2 separate regions of the Homo sapiens genome follow, and region 1 is linked to region 2. The links come from fine-mapping of genetic effects on gene expression. A gene starts in region 2. The other region holds a variant in brackets. All regions are shown on one strand. Distances are from middle to middle.

Evidence for each region. PIP is the estimated chance that this variant, and not a neighbour inherited with it, causes the effect.
Region 1: its variant is the best candidate, but not a certain one, in a credible set for the expression of MMP21 in tibial artery (GTEx, PIP 0.51).

Annotation. Positions count from the first base shown.
Region 1 is chr10:125,148,648-125,151,437 of GRCh38, reverse strand. All of the region lies in intron 1 of CTBP2 (C-terminal binding protein 2), which reads left to right. Among named protein-coding and RNA genes, the nearest start is that of CTBP2, 11 kb to the left of the region's middle. RefSeq lists an enhancer at 1,844-2,138. The variant C/G (reference allele first, on the strand shown) is at 1,215.
Region 2 is chr10:125,774,348-125,777,137 of GRCh38, reverse strand. MMP21 (matrix metallopeptidase 21) reads left to right here and starts at 1,317. Exons shown (of 7, transcript NM_147191.1): 1 at 1,317-1,478; 2 at 2,773-2,790. The coding sequence starts at 1,317.

The sequences.
Region 1 (2,790 bases), 630 kb after region 2:
GCAGTGGCAGTTGCTGTGGGAAACAGCGAGGGCCACTGAGACCTTCAGCAGAACTCCACGTCGAGGACGAGTGACATTTGCGCGCCTCTGCTGCGTTCTCTGCTGTTCACCCCGGCGGCTCCCAACACCTGAAGCCTGGCGAGGCATGTGACTAGAGGTTGTCCGAGCGCAGAGTGGTAGGACGGTGCGATCTGGCCCGTTTCGTCTTGCCCTCGTCTTCTCCATGGAGGAATTTCTGTGTTCGCCTCTATGTTTTGCAGACTTAATTTGGTGCTCCAGAAACTTATGCAGCCATTCAAGTGCGCTCTACCTGTTATTCAAGTAACTAGAGAGCAACCATTTCTTGAGCACTTACTTAGTGTCTGGCACTAGCTCGCTGGGCCATTGTGTGTTGTTGCGTTGCCCTGACTCTTCATTGGTAAAACAGTGACTAACTATCACCTGTGCCTCTGCGAGGACAGCGCTGTGCTTGGCCAGGGCTGGAGAGCCGATCTCAAGGCAGGTGTCTGGCCTTTTCCTGGACATAGTGAGTCTGTGATCCAGAGTCTGACCCACGTATTCAACGGGGCCTGCCTCAGGCTTCCAAACAGGAGCCAGGCTGTTGTGAATATTCACTCCAAAAGTGCAGTGAATGTAAAACATCCTAGAGCAGGAAGTGAGGCAGGCCCCGTTGAATACGTGGGTCAGACTCTGGATCACAGACTCACTATGTCCGGGAAAAGGCCAGACACCTGCCTTGAGATCGGCTCTCCAGCCCTGGCCAAGCACAGCGCTGTCCTCGCAGAGGCACAGGTGATAGTTAGTCACTGTTTTACCAATGAAGAGTCAGGGCCAGGGAGCTTAGGTAATTAAGTCTGGCTAGTTACTACCAACTTCGCCTGGCTCTGGCTTCTCTGTGGCTGACCGAGGCTTCTTGTGGCCTTTGACTGGGACACGGGAATGTCTGGGGATGGCTTTGCCACACTAACCAAGACTAGACTCCTTCTTTCCTCCCAAGCTGTTTCTCCCTTGCCCTCATCTGTGTGTCTCTGATGCAGCACCACCCCACACTCCAAGAATGCATGGGCACACTCTCCTGGGGTTATGTGTGTAGCTTTCACAGTGCTTAGGGTTTCATGTGGTAAAATTGGATTTAGTGGCCAGGTATCATTTCATCAATAGGTAAGACCATGTTTGTGGTCTGGGATAGTGTGATCTCAGTTGCCCTCCACCCC[C/G]CATCTCCCTCGAGGGAGGGCTTGGGTCCATGGGATGCACCCCTCCCCAACTCTGGTTGCCTCTGGCATTCAACTGGAGCCATGTGCACACCTGAAATAGGATCTGGTTTGTGGGTTCCACGTTGGGGAGTTGGGGGTCAAGAGACAGGGAAGATGCTTAGGATTTCTCCTAACTGTGATAGTCTGTTTGCACCACTCCTGTGAAAACCAGGGAGAAACTAGGTTTTGCCGGGTGAACTTCCTTTGGGTCGCTCCCCTGCATCCGTGTGGTGTGGGCCTTAGAAAGGAATTTGAATTAATACTCCTGAACAAAGGGAACAGCCTTCTTTTCAAAGAGGCTATCAGAGAACTGACAGGGAATGGCACAGAGTTGGGTGTGTCTTCAAATCCAGAGACCAGCCCCGCTCCACCGGAAGAGTACCCGGAGCAGGTGATGCGGGAGCTCCCAGGTTGACCTTGGCTTTCCATAGAGGGTAAGGTCCCCACAAGGTGAAGGTTTTCCTGAAAAACAGGCTTTTCTTTATAAGATTACCTTCCTATTCTACAACCCTTCTCTTCTTTTTGTGAACACGTGTGTACACTTGTGAGCACATGTGTATTCTGGAAATCCTTGGTTTCCGCTGGGGCTCTGGTGGGGCCGGGGGTGGTGTGGATGTTGGGTGCCCCCCGCCTCCATCTTGGCCTTTGGATTCTGCTCTGTCTTGTGGATGACTCAAGGAAGTGCTGGGAGGAGTCTCTTGACAAATCAGTCATGTGAGTCCCGGTGTCCTGGCTCACCTCCAGCTTGGGTATGAATAGAGTCAGCCCATTTTAAGTGCCCCCTGCAGTTTTTAAACAGGTCTCCTTCCACTTCACTCCACCTGGAAGAGGGTGGTGGGGCCAGGATCATCCCTGGGCCAGCCCTCTCCTTTCTGTGGTGCCTCACTGGGACACTGAGAAGGGGGAAGCTGCTTTCTCAGAGGCTGTTGCTTGGAAAGTGGCATCTAAGCATGAGAATGACTGCGGCGTGCAGGTTCCCATGAATGGTCATTTCCTGTGAGCCGGGCCTTGTGAGTGGTCTTCCAGAGCCCATGTCGTGTCTATGGTGTGTCCCCTGTCCTGTTCCAGGTTTCAGGGATCCTTTGCGCTGGGCAGAAGATCCACTGAGCTGGCATCCAGGTTCCTCCAGCAGAACACGGCGCAGTGGTGGACCTGCCGCAGCTCTGAGGCCAGCGAGCCAGTTTTCCCCAGCACCCTGTTTCCCAGCCCTAGCATCTTCAGAGTGTCCATTCTCCTCGCTCCTCCACGGCGCATGCTTTTCACTCAGGGTTGAGGATTCTTTTTCCTCCACTTGCACACATCCTTCTCATTTCTCAGCTAAGCCTGGGATTAAGAATGAGGCTTCAAGTGACAAAAGCCAGGAGATTTCACAATTAAAGTTGGAATTGTGTCTGCAGTGATGTCTTCCTCAGCATTTAAGGAAGGCCTTGAATAGTGGGTAATATTTTTCTATCCTAAATTGGCCACATGGCTCCAAATAGTGGGCAAAGGAAGACACTCCTGTGGTAAATTCGAGAATGTCTTAGTTGAGGCTCTC
Region 2 (2,790 bases):
TTTGTATTTTTAGTAGAGATGGGGTTTCATCATGTTGCCCAGGCTGGTCTTGAACTCTTGCTGGTCTTGAACTCCTGGATTCAAGCAATCCACCCACCTTGGTTTCCTAAAGTGTTGGGATTATAGGTGTGAGCCACCACGCCCGGCCGATGCCAAGCTAATTTTTAAACATTTTTTGATAGAAATGAGGTCTCATTTTGTTGCCCTTGCTTGTCTCAAACTCCTGGCCTCAGTCCTCCTGCCTCAGCCTCCCGCAACGCTGGGATTATGGGTCTGAGCCACTGCACCTGGCCTCTCCGTATTTCTATGATTCTCAATATTCCCATGGACGGCTGTGACCCAGTCAGTCTGCACTCTCAGGAGGACATCTGCTCAGATAAAAGCCCAGTTCAGGGGCTCTGTCTTCAGGATCCCAAAGAAACTTGAGGCTTCTCCATGAGGGGAAAAAGTAGTGGGCTGAGGTGATTCTAGTTTATCCTTCTATAAAAATCTTTACCCACAGAATGGGACGCTGTGCAGTCATTAACTAGAACGATAAATACTTACATTCAGAAACAGAAAAGTGCCTGTAACGTTGTGCTGGCTTGTAAGAACAGAGAATAGAGTTCATGTAAAATGAGAGACACACACAAATACTTCTCTAGGCATCTGTGCATATGTATCTGCAAGAATGTTCACTGAAATGTCACCACCGGAATCACAGAATGTCTCCTTCATTCTCAGTACTTTTACAATTTATACTATCTGCTCAGAAGATCTCCTTTATATAAAGATAAACAAAAAGAAGAAAAGCCACACAAAAAATGTGTGAGAAACAAACTAAAAATCTCCAAACCCCAGTTCACCAAGAAAAAAAAAGTGACCCAAACTGTAAGCAAACTAACGGTCAGGGTTTTTAAACTCAGGCTCAGCTCTGAGAGGCATGTTGTTAGGGGCGCAGTCTCGTGCCTCTGTTAATTCCACAGCTCATTTAGCGGCAAACTTGCCCGCAGTATATCTCCATAGAAATGGAACCCACAGGCACTGGCAACTGGAGGATGTAATTATCGGAGGACATGGCAAACTCTGGAGGCTGAGAGAAGGAGTTCTCACACCAACAAGAAAGGTGAGCCTGGGGTCTTCAAAGGCAGCACGCCCAGGGCCTGCCACGTGGCCTCCTAGCGGGCACACTTCAGGGCTGGGTGAGAAATGCTTGGAAACCTGGGTGCTCCCTCCTGCGTAGCTTATAAAAGCCACCCTAGGTCCTGCTCCTTAAGGAGAGGTGACGGGGACGGGGAAGAAGCCAGGCAGGGAGGGCAAGGGTTCAGACCAGGCCAATGCTCGCCGCCTCCATCTTCCGTCCGACACTGCTGCTCTGCTGGCTGGCTGCTCCCTGGCCCACCCAGCCCGAGAGTCTCTTCCACAGCCGGGACCGCTCGGACCTGGAGCCGTCCCCACTGCGCCAGGCCAAGCCCATTGCCGACCTCCACGCTGCTCAGGTAGGAGGAAGCTGGAAGAACAGCAATACCCCCAGGCCCGTGCACGTGCACACAGGCACATGCGCACGCGCGCACAGGCACAGGCCAGGATGCCGGCTGTGCAGAGGCAGAGAAGGGCCAGGCAGGCTGGGCTGAGAGGGAGGAGTGGCTCCTGTGGCTCCTATTGGAACAACCATGAATCGATGCTTAACCTGATTCGACAATCCCACAGGTCAGCCCTAGTGAGAAAGAAATGTCAGTGCGCAGACAACAGACTCAAATGCCAAGTGCCTTTCCAAAGGCAAGCATGTGATACTGTAGTGGCCAAGGCACTGTCCGAAGGCATTCTGTGGCTGCTCACCATGCCAATCTCTGGATGTAGAGAAGGGGACAGCCCTGCAAGGTTCCCCAACACCGCAATAGTAAGGATCCTAACAGCTGTCTGGGGTGGCATCCGTGGACTTCACCGGAGTCTGTGGTGAAGCACCCAGGAGGTCCAATGCAGGCGATCCCCTCCTCCAGAGAGTCGTGGTGGCGGGCAGGGAGTGGACCCATGAGGCCCCTTCACCTGCTCTGGCACGTGGTCCTTTGGTCACCATAGGCCAGGAGCTGATGCTCAGGGTCAAGTCCAATCCCCAGCTCCCACAGTGCCCCAGAGGCCAGGGCAGGGAGCAGGAGAGCCGCCCTGTGGCCAGGCCCGCAGCCGCGTGGAGGCCGCTGACCTCCCTCCCGCTGTGCGGCCATGAGGAAGCCCCCCAGGTCCTCAGACCCAACCACTGCCAAGCCCCTCAGTTCCAATTCCCAGCTCTCAGGACGTGCCTCCCATGGCTTTCTCTGCGGTGTGGCCACGCCCGGACTTCCTTGGCACCCCCCACCTGCCCCGCACGACCTGCCCTGCGCGACCTGCCCCGCAAGGCCGGGGGGAGCGTCTTCCTCCCCCGCGACCTCTTACCTCCTCCCGGCACTCGCCCACCCCGCTGCCCAGGTCTCCTGCTCCTCCGGCCCTAGGGCGCCTCTGACTCAGCCTGGTGCCCATCCAGGGCCCGCACTCAGGAAGGCGCCCAGGACTCGCTCCTTCTCTCCTGTCTACCTCTCTCCTGTCTCTGTCTCTCACTGCCGCTCTCTCTGTATCTCTATCTCTCTCTGTCTTCCTGTTTCTATTGCTATCTCCATCTGTTTCTCCCTGTCTGTCTCTCTGCTTCTCTCTGTCTCTGTCTCTATCCCCATGTCTCTGTCTCTCTAGACTTTGGGGCAGGGCAGCCCGGGAGGGCCCCGAGCGAGGCGGCCCAGATTAGGGTGCCTTTCTCTCCCACAGCGGTTCCTGTCCAGATAC